Regions from separate parts of the Homo sapiens genome. Here regions 1 and 3 are each reported to be linked to region 2. The links are microRNA targets in miRTarBase. Many come from high-throughput screens and were not tested one by one. Region 2 holds a microRNA gene; each other region holds the end of a gene's coding sequence.
What was found. The annotated mature microRNA hsa-miR-570-5p reads AAAGGUAAUUGCAGUUUUUCCC and lies in region 2 at 2,731-2,752, opposite strand. An mRNA with a match to its seed (bases 2 to 7 or 8) in the 3' UTR can be bound and repressed. Matches are read on the target gene's strand: a 7mer-m8 pairs with bases 2 to 8, a 7mer-A1 pairs with bases 2 to 7 and ends in A, and an 8mer does both.

Region 1 (7,206 bases), not on the chromosome of region 2:
GACAGTTTCACTCTTGTTGCACAGGCTGGAGTGCAATGGCGCGATCTCGGCTCACCGCAACCCCCGCCTCCCATGTTCAAGCGATTCTCCTGTCTCAGCCTCCTGAGTATCTGGGATTACAGGCACCCGCCACTACACCCGACTGATTTTTGGTATTTTTAGTAGAGACGGGGTTTCGCCATGTTGGCCAGGCTGGTCTCGAACTCGTGACCTCAGGTGATCCACCCGCCTCGGCCTCCCAGAGTGCTGGGATTACAAGCGTGAGCCACCGCACCCGGCCTGAAGTCTTTATAATTATGGTTTTGTTTAAAACAATGTTTGTTTGTTTGTTTGTTTGTTTTTGAGACGGAGTCTCGCTCAGTCACCCAGGCTGGAGTGCAGTGGTGCGATCTCGGCTCGCGTCAAGCTCTGCCTCCCAGGTTCACGCCATTCTGCTGCCTCAGCCTCCCGAGTAGCTGGGACTACAGGCGCCTGCCACTACGCCTGGCTAATTTTTTTTGTATTTTTAGTAGAGACGGGGTTTCACGGTGCTAGCCAGGATGGTTTCCATCTCCTGACCTCGTGATCTGCCCGTCTTGGCCTCCCAAAGTGCTGGGATTACAGGCGTGAGCCACTGCACCCGGCCAACATAATGTTCTTAATATATAGAAGGTACTCATATCTTTTAGTGAATACTTTATTCATTACCACCCAAAATATTACTTTTTAATTGCCTGACTAGTTAAATAAATACATCATAAAAATTAGGATGCTTTGTTTTTTTTTTTTGTACTTTGGTAAATTTTGCAATAAAATGGAAACTGTTTTTTTTCTCTTGATAGGCGCCCTTGGGATGTCCAATAGGGACAGCTATTTTTACGCTGCTATTGTTGCAGTGGTCGCCGTCCATGTGGTGCTGGCCCTCTTTGTGTATGTGGCCTGGAATGAAGGCTCACGACAGTGGCGTGAAGGCAAACAGGATTAAAGTGAACATCACCTTTTTATAGCATTAAATTCATTTTTTAAAATGATAAATGCTGGAGGGGGCCATCTGATTTGAATAAAGTTGAAAGAACATGTTAAAGTCAGTCTTAAGGAGTCACGTTTGAGTATGTAAATTTTGATCTTTCTAATATGTTGGTTTGTATATTCAGTTTTAACTGTATGAATCTGATTTGCAAATGAGAATTTGGAAAAGTTAGTTACAAAGAAATATGTTAATTTAATTAGACAATACTCTGGAAGGAATTTTATCTTCTTTCAACAAAACATGTTTTATAGTATTCTGACTTACGGTTGCTTTTGAGTTTTACTCATTTGGATATATTAAGATGCACACAGTGAAGCAAATTAAACTCCACTTTACGCTGGAATGCTTTCTTTAGCATGAAAATACCAGGTCCTTGGATTTGGGATTTTAATTTCCTATGGAAAGTTGCTTAAATTGTGGACACTGGAATTAATCTGAATGTCACTGAGGAATTTCACATGAAGTGTAATCCCTAGTCAATAAGAATTATCCATTACATTATTTTATGGGAAAACTAGGCTAAATTACATCCATTCAGGTAAAAGGACCTTAGCTTACTGAAGGATCTAAAGAGCAAAGCAAAGATCTCACTACTCAAACACTCAGCCTGCTTCCTTCAAGTCCCCTTGCAGGCCAGCTTTGTGCTTTGCAGACCAACTTTTTAATGAGATACTTTGCTTCCTCATTCAACATTGAAGCTAGGCTTCAATTAAAAGGTTCGAGGAAGCTCCATTTAAAATTGTTTTTTTTACTATTTTTTAAAATTGTAGTGTATATGATAGGAATTTGCATTTAAATATGTTCATTTTTGCATATGTTAGGAGTGGAAACAATCTGGAAAACATTTTTTTTTCATCCAAAAAGTATTCTCCTTGGGCATATCTGATGGAAAAAAACCTTGATTTTATTTTCGTATCTTTAGTCTGTGTTCTTTCTAGTTATTTGGTACTAATTATGTGCAATCTAAAAACACTCCCACAAGTATTTGTTTTTTAATTATAAAATCATAGTATATGTTCTTTGTAGAAAACTGGAAAAATACATATTCAAACAGGAAAAAAAATCAAAATTCCCCATAATGTTGCCATCTAAAAATAACCTCTATTTTAGTTGATATCCCGTATTCATTTTTGAAAGCCATTCCTTAATGCTAGTTTGATACACACTAAAAGTTTAGCTTACAAGTTCAAATTCTGCCAGCTTTTCCTGACAGCTATTTGCATTTTTTTCAGATGAGTGATTATTGGCCATTTTCTTTTTCTTTTTCTTTATTTTATTTATTTATTTTTTTGAGACAGAGTTTTGCTCTGTTGCCCAGGCTGGAGTGCAGTGGTGCAATCTCGGCTCACTGCAACCTCTGCCTCCTGGGTTCAAGTGATTCTCCACCTCAGCCTCCCAAGTAGCTGGGACTACGGATGCCTGCCACCACGCCTGGCTAATTTTTTTTTGTATTTTTTTGTAGAGACGGGGTTTCACCATGTTGTCCAGGCTAATCTTGAACTTGTGACCTCAGGTGATCCACCCGCCTCGGCCTCCGAAAGTGCTGGGATTACAGGCGTGAGCTACCACGCCCGGCCTTATTGACCATTTTCTAAATAAGCACATTCTATCTTTATTCTCTTAAAATTCAAATTTTCTGTTACTGATAATCCTAATACTAGGATTCTTGCTTAAGTATGTGAAACCATTACCGATTTGTTGTTCACATTTATTTTTTATGTTGTGAAACTGGACTAAAGGAATAGAGGGATGATTAGTCATAAAAGTCAAATAGCATTTGTGTTTAACTGTTGAGAAAAGTGAAAGATCAGTATGATTATTATGGAACTGTTTTTAATTCTTGCTTAAAGACTACAATTTTAGTATAATGACATTTGAGTCTAGGGTAGTATGTGGTAGATTTCTAGATGGTCCCTAATTAAGAAGTATTGTTGTATTTAGAATTGTCCACCTAATTTCTTTTTATATAATGCCAAGGTATTTCTTGTGCTTTTGGGATCTTATGCTGTTTGTAAAATGTTACTGTCCAATGTTGGATTATTGTTTTGGTTTCAGGCATTTGCTGAATAGGTGATGATACATGGGTATTTTTCTGCAAGTATTTAAACCAGGGGCATATGCAAAGGCAGTTGTAATTTCCTCTTGGAAAAAGCGCCAAATGTTTGAAGGTTAAAATCAAATGCTAGGGTTGATATTTAGGCTTATAACAAAATAGGCTTGTTTTCAAAGCAGTTTTTTCCTAGAGTTTTAACTGTTAACTCACTAGTTTGCTGCTGTTTTTAACTATGTTAAATAACATATGGTATTTGGCAAATAGATTTATTTTTCAAAATGTCTCACTAGTTTCCTTTTACACAATGTATATACTTCAAGATGTATAGAAAGGAAAGCTACAGTTGAGCCCTTATACATGTTTTAAGGTAGAAATATGTTCCCTATTGTTTGAAAACTGATTGTAAGAATAACCTCAGTTAGGAGATATAACTTGAAGTGTCAGTCCAAACTACTGATTTAACCCTATTTACGGTAACACATTACCTTCCTCACCTCCTGTTTGGCCCTGGAGAATGTAGTCCTTTTTCTCATTTGTGTTGAGAAATGAAAAGTCTGCTGTAGAATGTATCTGATGTCATTAGTTCTTCAAATGGATACCATTGTACATATAACAGTAGAATTTGGTTTGGGGTTGTTAGTGAAAAAAAATTTAAACCTGCCATTAAAAATCCCCATGTTTCATGGAAATCTAACAGAAATACATTGTAATAATTAGAACATTTTGTTTTCTTTTTTCTTTTTTTTTTTTTCGAGACGGAGTTTTGCCCTTCTTGCCCAGGCTGGAGTGCAAGGGCGCAATCTCGGCTCGCTGCAACCTCCGCCTCCCGGGTTCAAGCAGTTCTCCTGCCTCAGCCCCCTGAGTACCTCAGATGACAGGTGCGTGCCACCACACCCGGCTAATTTTTGTATTTTTAGTAGAGACGGGGTTTCACCATGTTAGCCAGGCTAGTCTCGAACTCCTGACCTCAGGTGATCCACCCGCCTCCGCCTCCCAAAGTGCTGGGATTACAGGTATCAGCCACCGTGCCTGGCCTAATAATTGGAACATTTTCATCATGAAAATGTCATCAGCTTTGCCAAAAGAAACAACCAATTGACTTGTTTGGCGTTTGTTTTCCATTTTCATGTCAATTTTATGTATACAGTTAGAATACCCAAGGAGACCACTAAAATCAGTTAAACAAGTAGGGTATATACAAAGAAAGATGAAACCCGAAAGTACATAAAAAGGATTTAAATCCGATTTTAGATGTACCTAGTGTGTATTTCTTATCTCTAGACAAGTTCATGTTTATTGTTTAATTTATGCCCAAGTGAAGTTGTAAACTTATGGTTCAACTCTGACACAGAATTTGTCACTTGTCTGAGGTCAGTGGCAGGTTTCTCTGCTGTCAAGCACTCTGTGTCACCCACCAGATTAGTATAACTATTAATTCAGACTGTACTCCTATGTTTAAGATAATTTTTACAAGAGCTGGCTGAAGCAGCACATTAGTAACCTGACAAGATTTCTTTTTCCCTTTTCAGGGGGAAAGGGTCACCTTAAAAATAAATTATTTTCAGGGACTTTGGGAATCTAATGATAAATATTACACATAATCTATGAATAGCTTAATCCTTTATATATTCCTTAAAATAGGAATTCCTCGACATCACTCCTGGCCACACTTTCCTTGCCTGTGTTGTTGCTATGTGTATTTGAAAGTAATATCTGCATTCCTTTTAAGATGTTCTGTAAGTCATATTTGTCAGTTATACAGAGTAGTCTTCCTTTTCCCCACGTTCAGTGTAATCTCACTGAACAGTAATAATAGCAATAGCTAACAACATCTGCACAGCACCTTACAGTTTGCAAAGAACGTTCACACATTCTCATTTGAGTTTTGCATAGTGAACCTGTTACGAGATGTCTCTTGACGTCGATGCTAAAAGTGTTAGAATCTTTACATCACTAGAGTCATTGAATATGCTGTAGTATTGAATAGTGCCCTGACTAGGGGGAGGATTTGGATGTGCTGCATTTCAAGCCGTGTATAATCATCAAAATGGGGGGCTTGAGTTCTTTAGCTACTTGAATCCGATTTACTTCTGTTAAGTGATGCTTTTCTAACCGTTTTCTGGATGGATTTTGTATTCACTATATTGTAGCTTGTAATTTGTATAAATGTACCATCTGATGTCATTAAAAAAAGTGTTTGTAGTGCTACTTTGCTGTGTCCTGATTCAATTAATGTTTTATTAACCGCTGTGTTTTTAAAAATTTGTTTGCCTGCTTCTCATTTTATAACATGTAGAATATGTACAGAGCTCACTTTAAAAAATTTGTTCGTTGGCCTCTGTTTGTGCTATGTAGATTATATAGAGAGCTGTCAAGGATAAGTTTTTATGCAGTAAATGTCAACCAGAAATGCTCAAACTGATTGGGAGTGTGGGGGAGGGGTGTTGAGCTGTAAAGGGCTGGTTATACTTCGTCTGGGGTGGGCTTCAAATGCCCCTAAAGGAGAGTTGAGAAATGTGGAAATAGATAATTCCTGACGACGTCCACATGCCACCCCCTCATGACCAATGTCCTGTGTCCTCTGTCCTCTAATCACCCGTTGATTGCACTCCAGCTCCTTCCTGTGCTTCTGAGGACTCCAGCTAATTCTTACTAATAAATGTTAATATCCCCTTCCCAAACACATTTGAGACGTCTTAGTATTAACAAATTTTATAGGTTATGAGATGTCCAGGGAACTCAGGAAACAGGTAATGGCATTGCAGAAACTACAGGACAGCAGTTCTGAAAGTTTACTGCAATCACCTTGTAGGATTTATTAAAAATAACTGATTGCCCAAATGTAACCCAGACCTTCTGAATCGGACTCTCTGGGGGTGGGGGCCTAGAAAGCTCTTTGGGGCAGGGCGTGGTGGCTCATGCCTGTAATCCCAGCACTTTGGGAGGCCGAGGCGGCGGACCACGAGGTCAAGAGATAGAGACCATCCTGGCCAATGTGGTGAAATCCTATCTCTACTAAAAATACAAAAATTAGCTGGGCACAGTGGTGCGTGCCTGTAGTTCCAGCTACTCAGGAGGCTGTGGCAGGAGAATCACTTGAACCTGGGAGGTGGAGGTTGCAGTGAGCCGAGAGCCTGGTGACAGAGCAATACTCTGTCTCAAAAAAAAAAAAAAAAAATTTTGGAACAGGCAGTGATCAACATGAAGCTGGATTGAGAACTACTGCTGGAGATTTAGAATTGTGCCTCCCAGTGTATGTGTTTAATGATGGACTTGAAGATGTTTGTATAAAGCCTGAAGTAAGCACACACCTTATTAGGCAAAGGTAGAATGTTGATAATGCTATATCGAAGGTGCAATTTAAAATAAGGAGACCTTTACTGGGTTCCTGACAATCCATATTGACTTTGCTTCAGTGCTAATGAATGATGTTGAATGAAAATTTTAGTACGGGGAACAGCCAACTTAAGACACAACTGAGGCGTGCGTAGATAGACATGGCCACTGCTGTGCCTGTGATGCCTTTTTCTTATTTGGAATCCTCACTGCTGTGGACTTTGGAGAGAAGGAAAACCAATAGGAGTATGTGAATTTGAGGTTTCTAAACCAGAGAGGTAATGGAGAAAAGCAGAAATGGTTTCTAGGCACATTTGTGCTATTAACCCTCTGGCTTCCCTGCCCCCCATTACCTTTCACTGCTTACGTGCCTGCACTTCCTTTCACATACGCCCTGCTCTTGCGTCCATTAAAGATGCATTGAGGTTAGCCCTTTTGGTAAATACAGGATGAAGGTGGAGAACATTAGTTCGCAACCTGGCAACCCAGGGATGCTTTCCTCCAAAAGAGGATCCAGCAGCCCTGAGGGAAGGGATACTACAAATGGCACACCCTGCATCTGTGTGCATCTCACCACCTTCAATGCTCCCACTTCGGGCCAGCCCAGATTTACTCCTCGCCTGGAGCCTCAAATTGGTTTCTTCTGCCCTTCTTGCACCTGTGGTCACTTTGCCACAAAGCAACTAGAAGTTTCCTTTAAAGATAATAGATCAGGCATACCATGCCTCTGCTCAAAATCCTCCCAATAGCTCCCCATCTCACTCAGGAAGATTTAGACTCCATATGTGGCCTACAAGCCAGGCCACTT
Region 2 (7,206 bases):
CTCAATAAATGCTGTCATAACCTCCTGTACTATGAATTGTCTATTTATATTATTCATGTAGTGCAGCTAGGAAAACCACTTTAACTCACTGAAGTTGTTTTTCTCTCCGTGAGTGTGCAAAGTTAAATAGGGGCAAAAAGCATCACCCAGTTTTTAGACAAAGGAAAGTGTGAGGAAGGAAGCTCCATGGTCACTTGCTGAATAATGGGCAACATTCACGCAAGTCTTCATGATAAGTTTGTTTGCTTCCATGTCTATTAATATAAAAGCCAAATCCTTCCTGTCTTTGGTTCTTTTTCTTATTAGCAACGTTCAAGTTTCTCTCTGGCCAAGTTTTACGTCCTACTTTGTCCACTTAATAATTATATTGACAGTCCAGCTGTGGCAGAATATTTTATTTTGGCCCAACTCTCCTGGTAAGAATAACTAGAACAGCTGGATAAATATTAACAACTATTTGTCTGAAAGCACTGAAGAACAACTGTGGCAGCAAGAACTGGAGATGACCAAGATCCTGAAAAGAGGGGAAGTGCAGAGAGGTGAACCTGACATTGAACATCAGACATTTGCTCACTGAAAAGTGGCAGCTGGGAGGCTGAGAGGCTGAGCAGAAAGTGGCGGCTGAGAAGCAAGAAAATGAGAACAGTCTTTCACAGGTCTGGGTAGATAACTGGTGGTCAGGACCCACCAAGGCAAGGAGTGCTAGTAAACACTTCAGGACTGCTGAGTTCCCTGAAGCAAATATTTTTTCTATTTGATGCTCTTCCTTTCGCCATTCAAGTTGCTAATAAATTCAGATGTTTGTAATAGGTTAACCCAATTTCACTATTCTAAACAACAATAAAGAGCTGAAAAAAAGCTACTATGTTGGTGAGAAGAGGGTGCTTCGTGGGGACAATTCTTGGCTCCTCTTAGCCTAATTGGGCTCAACTTTGGAAAGTCAGTCTCTTCATCAAGTTATAGGATTAGAAAGAGATCAAATAGAAATGCAAGATTTTAATTCAGATCTCATAACTGAGAGTCTGGGTTGAGTTGCCCACTGCTTGGATGTTTGCAGGCTATCCATGAAGAAATATTAAAACATTTTCAGTTAAACAATAGGGCAGTGGTAACATAACTTACAATACATGCTTTTTCAAACCATGTTGTATGTCTTAGGCTGAATATGTTCAGAATGCCATTGATTTAGATACTTTATTTCTGTGTTTGAATACCAGAGTAAGACACCTATTACCATAATTGGAAATTTCCAAATGTAAAATTTCTTCAGAATCCCAATGCTGAAGAGTACATGGCTTTAAAAGATAGCATGCAATTTTGTTTTATTGGTTTTCTTTTATGCATGAAAAATTGTCAGTCTTGTGCATGACTGCCATCAATACCCCATTATTGGTTAGAGATTAGAGAGGATTTTGAGTACAGGATGTCTTGGTTCTGGTAGAACAGATACACTCAGAGTAAGGAAGTGACTAGGTAAAATGTGTCAGTGCATCTCTGTGTAATTTCCTCTGAGTTGAGCATTTATTTAAATGAAATAAGTAAGGAAGATGCAATACTGACTTGAAAGCTTAATTTTTTTTAGATAAACTTTGTGTTTGGAAATAATTTCAATCTTGCAGAAAACTTGTAAGAATTAGAATAGAACAAGGTACATCATAAAGTCTTTAGCCACATTTACCTATTAACATTTTACCCAATTTGTTTTATTATTTGTGGTCTCTCTTCATATCTACATATATCTCTATAATACAATATATGTAAATGTATATATACTCATACTATTTTTCTGAGCCATTTAAAAGTAATTTACATGTATATTATGGTCCTTTATCACTAAATATTCCAGGGCACATTCTTAGTACAGGGATACTTTTTTTTTTTTAAACTTTTTTTTTTTTTTTGAGATGGAGTCTTGCTCTGTTGCCCAGGCTGGAGTGCAGTGGTGCAGTCTTGGCTCACTGCAACCTCCGCCTCCCGGGTTCAAGCAATTCTCTGCCTCTGCCTCCCGAGTAGCTGGGATTATAGGCACCTGCCACCACACCCAGCTAATTTTTTTTAATTGTTTTATTTTTAGTAAAGATGGAGTTTCACCATCTTGGCCAGGCTGGTCTGGAACTCCTGACCTCGTGATCCACCCACCTCAGCCTGCCAAAGTGCTGGGATTAGAGGTGTGAGCCACTGTGCTCGGCCTAGTACAGGGATATTTTCTTATGTAATCATAGTACAACTATCAGCTTCAGGAAATTTAATATCGATACAATACTTTTTATATGGGCTAGTGTCCATATTTTAATTTTGCTAATTGGCTCACTAGTGGCCCTTGTAGCATTTTGACTCCTCAATACAGGATCCAGTCTAGGGTCAGGTATTGCAATTAGTTGTCATGTTTCTTTAGCCTCCTTTAATCTGGAGCATTTCCACAGGCTTTGTCTTTTTTGACATTGGCGTTTTTGAAGAATACAGGCCCCCATTTTTTTTTATATATATATATAAAACACCTCTCATTGTGTCAGATGCTTCCTCGTGGTTAGATTCTGGCTAACCTGAATGTGTTCTTGGCTGACATGCACCGTAGCTGATGGGACACATCCAGAGGTGAACGATGGGCATCTCCCCCTCATTGGTGATGTTAATTTTGATCACTTAGTCAAAATGTTTCCTGGGTCCTCCATTATATAATTATTAGGTTGATGCAAAAGTAATTGTGATTTTTTTTTCCATATTTTAAATGGGAAAAACTGCAATTACCTTTGCACCAACCTAATACTGTATTTCCCCTTACAACTAATAAGCAATCTGTAGGGAGGCACTTTAAGACCATTCAAATGTCTTGCCTTGCATCGAAATCTCCCCTCAATTTTGCATCCATTGATGATTCTCTTCTGATTTGATCTTTGCTCTAACGATGATGTGCAGGCTTTCTAATAGTGAATATCAGGCAGCCAAAAGGTGATTCATTTTATAATGTGTGTAGGCTTAGTGAGGGTGGCATAGATTGGAACTCACTAGAGCTCAGAAGTCAGTTTATTCCCTGTTTTTCTTCTTTTTGTCCCATCAACATGGATTGATCCACACGTGGGCTTCTGAGGGTTTCCTTCACTTAACTTGTAACTTGATTTTTCTTTCCCTGACCCCCTAACCCTTGGGAAAGGAAGGGGAGGGGGCAAAAGAAACACCTACCTGTGAAGTATCAGCAAAACAGTGTGTAGAAAGAATAAATAAATAAATAAAAGAAGGCAGGCAGCCAACTCTGAGGAGCTTGCAGCCCCGCCCCCTGCCGGGGTTTGCACTTCGGGGCCCACAATTCGCACATTACCACGGGATAACCAGGAAGATAGCAGTGCCGCGCCTCTCTGCCTCGGGGGGGGGGGCTGCTTTTCCTGTAGCGGAAACTATTTGTGCTCCCCAGTAAGTCCAGGAACAATCTCCACTTATTATACCAGCTCAGAACCCAGGACTGTTTACAGCCTCACGCAGACAAGACACTAACCCTCACTCATTACTGTCGCTGTGGGGATTTATCTGCACCACACTCTCCTTGCATGTGGCCCACATTTTCATCCAGTAAAATCACATGTTGTTAACTCAATATATACAGTGAAAACAGCATGAATAATGGAACCTTTAATCCTTATTTCTCAAAATTAGATTTCCACTTTATCCTTCTCCCATTTCCTCTCTTTTAAAAAATTCTTCTCAGTGCCAAGCAATAGATGTTGTCCAGACCTTAACTCTAAGGAGATTCTATGGTATTTCTATTCCATTACCAGGTACCTTTGTGGATTCAATTTCTGGGTGGATTGATTGTATTTCTTTCCCTGGTTGCTTCACATGTGACTCATGAGAAATTAACATCATCCTTGTCACAGATGATGAGAAAAAGAGCCCTATTGACACGGGGTACGTTTCAACAAATGTAATAAAAACTTTAGGTCTGATTAAACTCACACCTGTAATATCAGATGTGAAGACACACTCATACCCTGTGTCTTTATCTCCGTCTTCCTTGGTAAACAGATTTATAGGGTTGGAATTATTTTTGGTATTAAATCAGAAACCAACAATACTAAATCAAACTTCAAGGATGGGGTTTGTCAGAGACTGGCGTGTGGCATTAAGACCCCTTTCTTAACATGCATAGTATTATACATTATGCAGACAATACGTCCAAAGGTTGTGCTAAGGATATTCAGCTTGGTAAATTTTCATTATTCCAGAGATGGGCTGGTAAAGCAAAATGAACCAGATTTACATTGACCATTAAGAGGGTCTACATGCATAGACTGTCTATTTCTTTTAAAGGTTTAGAAATGGTTGCCCACATTTTTTAAGTACCGTGGCTCTGAATATCTGAGTAAACACACACACACACACACACACACATATATGCGTGTGTGTATATATATGTGTGTGTGTGTTTGTGTGTATATGTAATACATATGTACATTAAGATATATGTCTCTCTATATATTTGTGTATGAATCAATGATTTGATTCCATGGGTTTTATGGAGCATGTCATAGTGGTTAAGAGGCCCATTTTGGGAGTCCACTGAGTTCCAGTCCTGACTCTGCCCTATTTGTTAGGTAGCCTTGGCAAAGTTTCCCTATCTGTAAATGGGGATAAATGTGAACCCTTCTTGCAAGGCTGTCGTGTAGACTGAATGTGGTAATATATGGACAAGGCCAGCATGTGTCTGGTGTATGCTAAGTGTACAATCACTATTAGTTGTCATTACCAGAGAGGCAGTTTAGTATGAAGTGGATGAATTGAACTGTGACTCATATGATTCTGATCAGGAACTACCATTTTGAAAAAAACCAATTAAACATAATAGCTAAAACGAGATTGACCTACATTGATCAGGAAGGTGGCCAAGAAAATAGATTGATTAGGTGTGGCCTATTCATTTCATAAATTTAAGTCTATCTTAATGATTTCTATCAAAATACCTTATAGACTTATCTTGCCTCATGGTCACTCCCAAATTTTAAAGAGATGGACAAATTTAAAAGAGATTTTCTTTCATGTGCTTCTGTCTTTGGATGGCTCATTTTTTTAAAACAAACAAAAGGCTTTCTTTTTCATGTACTCGAAGAGATGTAAAGTCTTTATTAGTGAAAACTTCATGACGGAAAATAAGTTGCAGCTCATTACTGTTTAAGCCTTTTCATCTTACTGGGCTTTAACGGTTTGACAATAAGGCTGTCCATGCACCATGGTAGCCCTGGGGAGGAAAGCTGGGGACCTGTTCCTACTGGCTGTCAGCATTTGCTCAATTTAGAGACTGTCAGTGAGGAAGGGAGAAGGGTGTGTGAGCAGGTCTGGTGCTCTGGTCCAAACAGAACACCCAGGTGCACCATCAGTTACCAGAGCAGCCAGCAGCCAGCCATGCCCTGGCTTGTCTGTTCCTGTGGTACCTCACTCCAGTAACACCTATCACTTTGCACCGTCAAGGCATTTCTCAAGCATTAGCAAAACCTCTTTGTTAAGAAAGCAGACATTCCTGTTTTTACTTCATACAGAGGGAGATAAAGGTGGACGGAAGAAAGAGATTCACTTCATCAACCGAATATTCCTGTGTTAGCCTTGGCAGAGGAGCCTATTCCTGAAAGCAGGAGAGGTTGATTTCTGCAGTTTCCGCATCCAGTTGACTAAGCCTTTCTTTTAACCAGGTGACAAAAAATACCCCCACATGCATATAGACTCCTATAACTTGTGGTTTCAGGATCTCTCTCTCTCTTTTTTTTTTTTTTTTTTTTTGAGACAGAGTCTCACCCAGGCTGGAGTGCAACGGCTCAATCTTGGCTCACTGCAACCTCTGCCTCCCAGGTTCAAGCGATTCTCCTGCCTCAGTCTCCTGTGTAGCTTGGATTATAGGGGCGTGCCACCATGCCCGGCTAATTTTTGTATTTTTAGTAGAGACACAGATTCACCATGTTGGTCAGGCTGGTCTCGACCTCCTGACCTCATGATCCACCCGCCTCGGCCTCCCAAAGTGCTGGGATTACAGGTGTGAGCCACTGCACCTGGCCCAGTATCTCTTATGTGACTTTGTCAGACCTACAGGATCACTGAAGCAGTCAAGATAGACACATGTGTGCATGTGCCCACCCATGTGCATATGATCTTGAGGTTAGAGAATGATGTTCACCCATGAAGTTCCAAATAAAAGAAGAGCAGACAGGGTCAAGGACGAGTTAAAGATGGTTATCTTTTGTGAAGTTCCTGAATTTACTGAAGTTTGTTAGTGTTATAGCCTGACCGTTCGCCTATGGAGTCTTCTCTTTTGTTCTTTAAAGAGGTGATGACTATACAGTTAGCATTGGTTTTCTCATCTGCCTTATGGCAAAATAATCTGTTCTACCTTCCCCCTTTCCACCCCCTTCCTCTGTGAGTACAGGGCCCTGAGATGTGGTAAATCGCCGCTGTCCCAGAACAATCCACTGCTCTGTGTACCCTGTGGAGATCAGTTTTGGTCATAGCTGGCGGGTGCCCATTAGCAGATGGACAGTTTTACAAGTGGCAGCATTACTTCATTTCTAGCCTGTTCAGTTCAGACCCTGCAGCAGATTTAATGACTGGATGTGTGATTGCTTTAGCAATGTGTCATTTTCTCTGAAACTGAATTTGTTTTAAATGGTGTTGTAAGGTTTCAGTAGTTGTGGTGTAGGATGTTGTCAATGCATAATTGTCATGAAGCCAAGGGAAATGAATAAAATGGGTAATCCATCCAATTCTTATTAATTAGTGATAGGTTTTTAACAATATCCAGGCCACTGCTCTTTGTCTCAGTGCAACCTGTCTTCAGTGCTGTCTCACTTACAACTTCAAGGCCAGGGGGCAAGTTCCATTTAAACGAAGCTGCATAGCATGTAGCACATTTATGCTGTTTACATAGTAGTTGGTTATTTTGATGAAGGCCTAGCTATAATTTCTCTGTGGTAAGGATGTAATAAGATAATATTTAAAAACTTTAAGCAAGTTTATATTTAATTATATATCTTACTCTGTCTTGAAAGTGGGAAAAACAGATACAGAAAGTACCATAACTTTAAAAAAAAGATAGTTCAATAAGATTTCAAACAGTTAAATATATGAAATTCAGAAATAAATGCATACTTCTGAATTGCACTGGATTTAGTGTATATTGTGACTCTAGGTCAGAGTCACAGAATTAATTTGGACTTTGGGAAATACCTTTAT
Region 3 (7,206 bases), not on the chromosome of region 2:
GTCATGGCAAAAATGCTAAGAGCCAAAAACAAAGAGAAAATATGGAATGCAGCACAAGAAAAATGACTTAGGACTTTTCACAAGCTAGCAACTCTGCATGGAGCATTCCTCATCCAGTGGACATCCTGGCTTCCTCAGACACTTCCCTGACACCTCCCACCCACCCAAGATTAGATGAACTCCTTTAATGCTATCAAAGCCCCAGTGACTTCACCTTTTTTTAACACTCCCTTCGCTTGTTGTCAGAATTGGCCGCATAGCTTGTGAGGCCCTGTGAAAGATAAAAATGAGGGCTCCCTCTTTAAAAATTATTAAGAATTTCAAGATGATGTTCACAGAGCATGAAAGTCAGGCTCAGGGACCATCTGAGTGTGAGGCTCTGTGTGACTGCACAAGTCACATGATGTCCATGCAGTTGCCCTGAGCACAGTTTCTCATTAAAACCATCCAGGCAGGGGACAAGCCTCATCTTCCTTGCTCTCCGCTACATCTGGTGTCTCTTTCGTGGTGCCTAACACAGTAGCCACTAAACGAGTTTGTCAGTGTGTGGAAGCTCCTCAATCTAAACTACTTACAGGAAGTCCTCACTTAACATTGTCTATAGGTATTTGGAAACTGTGACTTTAAGCAAAACAAGGTAACACAAAACCAATTTCACTACAGGTGAATTAATAAAAACAGCAGTTAAGTTCCTAGGGCATATTTCTGGTCACGAAAACACCACTAAATCGCTAAATAAAGACCCCAAACACTTCTAACACTAAACATTGAAATAAATGTTATCTATACATACATCTAAGATTAATGAAAACAATTTAAGGTAATTATATACCCAGTGATTCTGGTTCAGGGTCGCAGGTGGCCAGAGCCCATCCCAGCAGCTCAAGGCACAAGGTGGGAATCAACCCCATTCTATGGCAGGGCACACTCACACACCCACACTCTCACACTCAGACAATTGAGACACACCAGTTAACCTGGCATGCATGTCTTTGGGATGTGGGAGGAAACCAGAGTCCCTGGAGAAAACCCACGCAGACATGGGGAGAAAGTGCACACCCCACAGACAGCAGCCCTGGCTGGGAATCAAATTTTTTTCCTCGTTAATATTATAACAGAATGACATTGAATGAAAAAATGTTATGTGTGGACCTGCTATATTTTGCTTGGTTGTAAAAACAATAGCTAGTTTTGTTGTTGTTGTTGTTTGTTTGTTGTTTGTTTTTGAGATGGAGTCTTGCTCTGTTGCCCAGGCTGGAGTGCAGTGGCACAATCTCGGCTCACTGCGAGCTCCACCTCCTGGGTTCATGCCATTCTCCTGCCTCAGCCTCCCGAGTAGCTGGGACTACAGGCGCCTGCCACCACAAACAATAGCTAGTTTTTGTTCCACTCTCTGGTACCGATTACATTGTTTCATTCACAAATACTTCATCTTTCACTATGTTTCAGCATGTTGATCTTTGCAGAAGTAAAGAATAGAGACAGCTTAAGCCCAATTAAATTATTTTATGTGTATATTGCAGTTCTTACATAATTTCACCATATTTATTGTCTTAGTCCATCTGGGCTGTTATAACAAAATAACATAAAGTAGGTGGCTTCTAAACAACACACATTTGTTGCTCACAGTTCTGGAGGCTGGGAAGTCCAAGATGATGGTGCTGGCAGACTCTGTGTCTGCTGTGGGCCTGTTTCCTAGTGTATATATAGCAGTTTCTCACTGTGTCCTCACATGGTGTAAAGGGATAACAGCTTCCTTCAGGCCTCTTTTAAAACAGCATTAACCCCATTCATGAGAATTCATGATCTAATTACCTCCCACCTCTTAATTCCAAAACTTTGATGGTTACGATTTCAACATAGGAATTTTGAGGGACATATTCAGACCATGGCATTTATGAACCTATTGAACAGAATACCTCATTTCTCTGAGTTGATCTATCAGATATGCATATTTTACTCCTTTCTATTGCATTTTCCATTGTATTAAGTGTTATTAGCTAATAGTGTTTTATTTTTAAATAAGTACTGTGAAAGTTAATAATACAAATTGGGCAATTCTTGTCATACATACTCAGTTAAATCAGAACTGAGGGGCCAGAGAGGAAAACATACGTGGGGGACATAGCACCTACTCCACGAATGTATTTTCTCCAAGCCCAGCTGCTGAAATGGCCTGCTGTCACCCCAGGGCCAGTTTTACCTGGTAGCTGCTGAAGCAACAATTTGTGACTCTAAGACTTGTTTTAATTCCTGCCATGACTCACCAACCAGAGCTTGCCAGAGTCCAAAAGCTTCTCTAGTGCCAATGAGCTTTCTTTCAAAACAATATGTAACAATTCTTTAATAAAACTCCTGTCTCTTTGTTCTTTGGACATACTGAAGATCACCTGGTCTCTGTGTATGTCCTGAATTGCAATTCTTGCTTCCTAAATAAAATGTTTCAAATTTCAATATTTATCTCTATATCTTATTTAACTTCAATGGTACTCATACATTTTTAGACTTTTGACTTTTTGATGAGAGAGAAACTACCTTAGCTTTAGATAACATTTACAAAGCTCATTTGCAAGATGTCCTCATCTTCTACACCATGCTTACAACTATTAACCACAGGTGTGAACAGGTAGATGGTGATCACTTGACTCAGACTGGGTCTTTGGAAATTTACCAAACCTTTCTGTGTCTGTTTCATATCTAATGCGATAGGAGTAGTATTACTTATCTCACAGTTTGTTTTTTTTTTTTTTTTTTTTTGAGATTAAGTCTCACTCTGTCACCAGGCTGGAGTGCAATGGTGCGATCCCGGCTGACTGCAACCTCTGCCTCCCAGATTCAAGCAATTCTTCTGCCTCAGCCTCCTGAGTAACTTGGATTACAGGCGGGCACCATCATGCCAGACTAATTTTTTGTATTTTTAGTAAAGAAGGGGTTTCACCATGTTGGCCAGGATGGTCTCGATCTCTTGACCTCTTGATCCGCCCACCTCAGGTTCCCAAAGTGCTGGGATTACAGGCGTGAGCCACCATGCCTGGCTTTCTCTCACAATTTTTATTAAAGAGAATTACAGGAGTTGTCTTCTATAGGCACCTAGGAGGGTTCCCCATACTTAACAGATATTCAATGCACATTACGTTTTGCTCCCTCCCATGTGGTGGGGTAATGCTATGATCTCCATGAAGTCCTGCGATCTGCTTTCCTCATTCACTCAAGCTTTTATCACTTAGTAAGAATTTCTACATGTTAAGTGGTGTTTGAAATTCCTCTGATTTAAACATAAAATTAAACAATAAAATCAACATGTCTCCTTAATCACTGAGATTTTTTTCTCATACTCATTTCACTCTGCAAAAGTGTGTCTTCTGAAAAGCTGGACTTGCAAAACGCTCACCATGAAATATAACTTTTCAATGCATATGTAAACCAAAAAAATTTGAAATAAAACATTTCATTCTACCTTTTTTGATGTATTTAATTGAATGACTCATTTAGTGATTTTCAGTTTAATATATTTAGCAGGTTAATACCTGGCTTATTAAACAATAATCTTTATTAACACAATTTTTCTTATTGAATACAAAATAAACCATTGCAAACTATAGTCACAATAATCAAGAGAGGATCAAAGCTACTGAGCAAATAGACCAGCTATAAAAGTTTATTAAAAAAATAGACAACATATGTAAACATATTTTTCAGTCACAAGGCTTCATAATACAGCACATTAGGCCCAGGCCTTAAATCTCTGCAGTGAGAGTACCTTAATTTTTTACTAACAGTAATTGACTTATCTTTCAGTGAACATTAAGCCTACACAAAAATAAATAACCAGATTCTGCTAAGTTTACTAACACAGAAAATTGCAAATGTACAATAGATTGCAGCAAAAGTTAACTATCTGCAGTAACATGTGAGATTGAATTGTTATATTACAATTATTTTAATACAGCTTCATTTTGAAATTCATCATAATGTAGAGTTGACTAAAATAAAGCTAAAGGGGAATAATAACAGAGATAAACAAACACCCAGATCACATACACTCCCCAACACACACATGCAAACACACATTTACTAATATGCATGCACACACACACACGCCAACATACATGCACACACATACAGGGATGTTTTGGTAGAAGTAAAACTGAGGACATAGTTTCCATCCTTTTTCTTTCATGTATTGATGATTTTAGGTATATATTTCTCTACCCTTAAGCTGGAAGCTACGTGTTCCAAAAGGACTGAACACAAAGCAATCATAGTTTCAAATGTGATAACATTTTGGGAAAACCAAATCTCTGTTACATAATTCAATAACCACACAAAGTGAAGCCGAATCATAGAACAGATGATAAAACAAGAAAACGTATTAAGTATCTGAGACTTTGCTGCAAGAATCCAGAATGCAAGATCGTTTTCCTTAGGGCAAAACTTACCATGTTAATACAATCCTTTCATACTGTTTCTCATCTGCTGGATATACCTGTTAGGCAACCACAATGCTGCAAAATTGCCAAATAATATGATTTTCCTTTTCTTCTATTATAGGTGAGATATTTTATCACACAATTGAATTTATTTTAAATTGCTGACATTTCAGTTATTCAGTAAACCTTAAGCAAGGTGCAATTTTAAATGAAATATCAAGCAATGTTTTTAATTTAGTTTTTCATTGTTTGGAAAAATTTAAATGTCGATTGTCTGTCTTCTGAAGAGCCACATTCTAGAGACAGAAGGGAAGCACAATACATTTAACATAAGAAACCAAGGCAAATTTACCAAGCTCTCGGGTAGCCATTTCTGCACCAATAACTCTGGATTTGTATCATATATGTATGACCATAAAAGTGATTCATAGATAATTTTATTATTTAAATCCTGATCTGCTATTCAAAGATCCATTTCTGAAAATAATTCATAATATAGTTGTCGTTTCCACCATATGAGCTTATTTCAACAGATGTCTAACATTTATCCACAATTAAATGAAATGTGAAATAACAACAACATACTTAACTTCTAATAGTACTGTACTGCTGTTCCTTGAGTTGTCAGTGTCTTTGGGATTATTAGGATAATTATGCACTCAAATAGAGAAAATAAAATTAAGACACATGACTGTTTACAGTACATGATATCTGTGAAGAGCTAGGTATCTGTAACAATTTTTAAAAGTTCTACTGGAGAATGAAAAAGCTTTCCACTTCTGAATATCAAATAAAGGGCTACTGATGGAGGAAGAATGTTTTCTATAGGAAAAACCTAAAGATTAGCCTCACTCAAGGGGCACACCATGTGGTCTCAGTCAAATGGCAAGGACTGAACTTTGAACATCTATTTTGGAGTTCTAATGAATAAAATGCTTATAACTTATATTCAGTAAAGCTTTTATAAGTTACATTCCGTATAATTTCCTCAGAGAGAAATATCATTGCATAATTTAAGTGAGAACTGGACATATGCATTATCGGCCCACAGCCAAGGTTAGGTAGTTTAAACAGGACTTTATATCTATTCCAGTCGTCAGACTTTTAAGACCTTTACTTACTAATATCACATTATTCTTGCCAAGAAACTAAAGCTCTTTCTTGGCTTTTTGTTGCAAAAATGACAATTAAGAAAAGAAACTACAAGAAAAAAAAACAAGAAACAAGACAAGAAAAAGGAAAGAAAGGAAAAAAGAAAAAAAAGGAAGGAAAGAAACAAAAATAGTGAAGCTCATTACAATTTCTGTTGTGTGCAAATGGACAAAGGCATAAATGAGAACAAAAACATTAACATTGTGCTGAAGGTAATTCGACCCAGCATAGTTTTCATTGGTGCACATCTCTTGTTTTACACTTTTGTGTATTCCAAGTTATAAGAAAAGAATCCAGAGGAAAAACAATAGACATGGCTAACAGCAATCATATACATTTTTTGAGAAGCTGGATATATCTTACTAATTTAGGAACATGGCCACAGCTTTTGAAAACACAGCAGCATGAAACAGTTCAAAGGTAGATACATTGTGTTCATTTGTTCACCTTAAAAAAATGCTTAAACAACAGTAAGGCACTTAGTTTAAGACAGGAATTCTTTCTCCAGTTCATATATAGATGGCCGGCTGGTTTTGCTCCTCATTCTGCACAGTGGCACAGTGTAGTCCCTGCTCTGACCTTCCACGTCAGCATCCAGTAATGAAGGCACATGGGATTTAGTTCTCTCCTTGGCAGCGAGGAATTGGGTGGGATGTGGTCCTGGGCGACCCACTACACAGGCAGTCTGTGCCAGCTGAGACACTGCTGTCTGTGGGTAAGCCTGAGGCAGATCTGAGCGGCTTCTCAGGGAGGCAGGGCGACGCTGAGGCACGATGTGGACAGTGCTGTGCTTCTTGGGTGAGACCTCCCTTGGCAGATGACTGTGAGGAGCAGGTGAGGGGCAGAGTGGCAGTGCAGAGGCTCCAGTGGCTGAGATAATAGTTGCACCAGCTGGTTGAGAAAGCCAAAACAGTATGCAGTTAGAAAGAAAATGAGTTCTAAAACAATGAATATCAAGAAAAATAATTATGATGGCAATTCAACAAAGTGATAGCTTTAAAATGAGCTTCAACAAAAAACATGCATTCACAGGCATGATCATAGCACACTGCAGCCTCGAACTCTTGGCCTTAAGGACCAAGGAACTCTGCCTTAGCCTCTAGAGTAGCTGGGACCACAGGCATGTGCCACCACACCTGGCTGAAGTCCTGCAAGTTTGCAAAGAGTACTTCAACCTATGGAAATTATATTTGTAAACAGAGCTAAATAATCCTCACAGTGCTTAGGCCAATAAAAATTATGAGTCATTATAATGATATTATAACGGTAGCTTTCAAAATGGACTAGACTGGAATAAATTTAAGAGGTTTAAAAATGATGGTCAACATGATTAAACTTCACTGTAGATTATGATTTGACAAAACTGATGAAAATGGAAAAGCAGTTAGACTTTTACACGTCACCTCTTTTCTTGTTTGTACTGAAGAACTGAATAATGTTATTACCACTTTAGCAAATAATTATTGGCTTATAAGTTAGAGAAAAATATGCTTTCATATGGGATTACTGTGCTAGAATTTCTCCTTGTGCAATTATAAATTACCAATACTTATTGACCTACAGAAAGATAATAAACCAATTTATCTAAAGGCAATGAACAATAATATAGAAAATATCATATCCA

Region 1: miRTarBase lists VMA21 as a target of hsa-miR-570-5p. Seed matches in the 3' UTR shown: 7mer-m8 at 3,544-3,550.
Region 3: the mRNA of MAP3K21 is a reported target of hsa-miR-570-5p. Seed matches in the 3' UTR shown: 7mer-m8 at 5,792-5,798.

The regions. Positions count from the first base shown.
Region 1 is chrX:151,404,095-151,411,300 of GRCh38, forward strand. VMA21 (vacuolar ATPase assembly factor VMA21) reads left to right here. Exons shown (of 3, transcript NM_001017980.4): 3 at 822-5,270. The coding sequence ends at 964. Among named protein-coding and RNA genes, the nearest start is that of VMA21, 10 kb to the left of the region's middle.
Region 2 is chr6:99,120,170-99,127,375 of GRCh38, reverse strand. It overlaps MIR548AI (microRNA 548ai), which reads right to left and starts at 2,767; the gene lies at 2,680-2,767.
Region 3 is chr1:233,381,572-233,388,777 of GRCh38, reverse strand. It overlaps MAP3K21 (mitogen-activated protein kinase kinase kinase 21), which reads right to left. Exons shown (of 10, transcript NM_032435.3): 10 at 3,630-6,473. The coding sequence ends at 6,067. Among named protein-coding and RNA genes, the nearest start is that of MAP3K21, 57 kb to the right of the region's middle.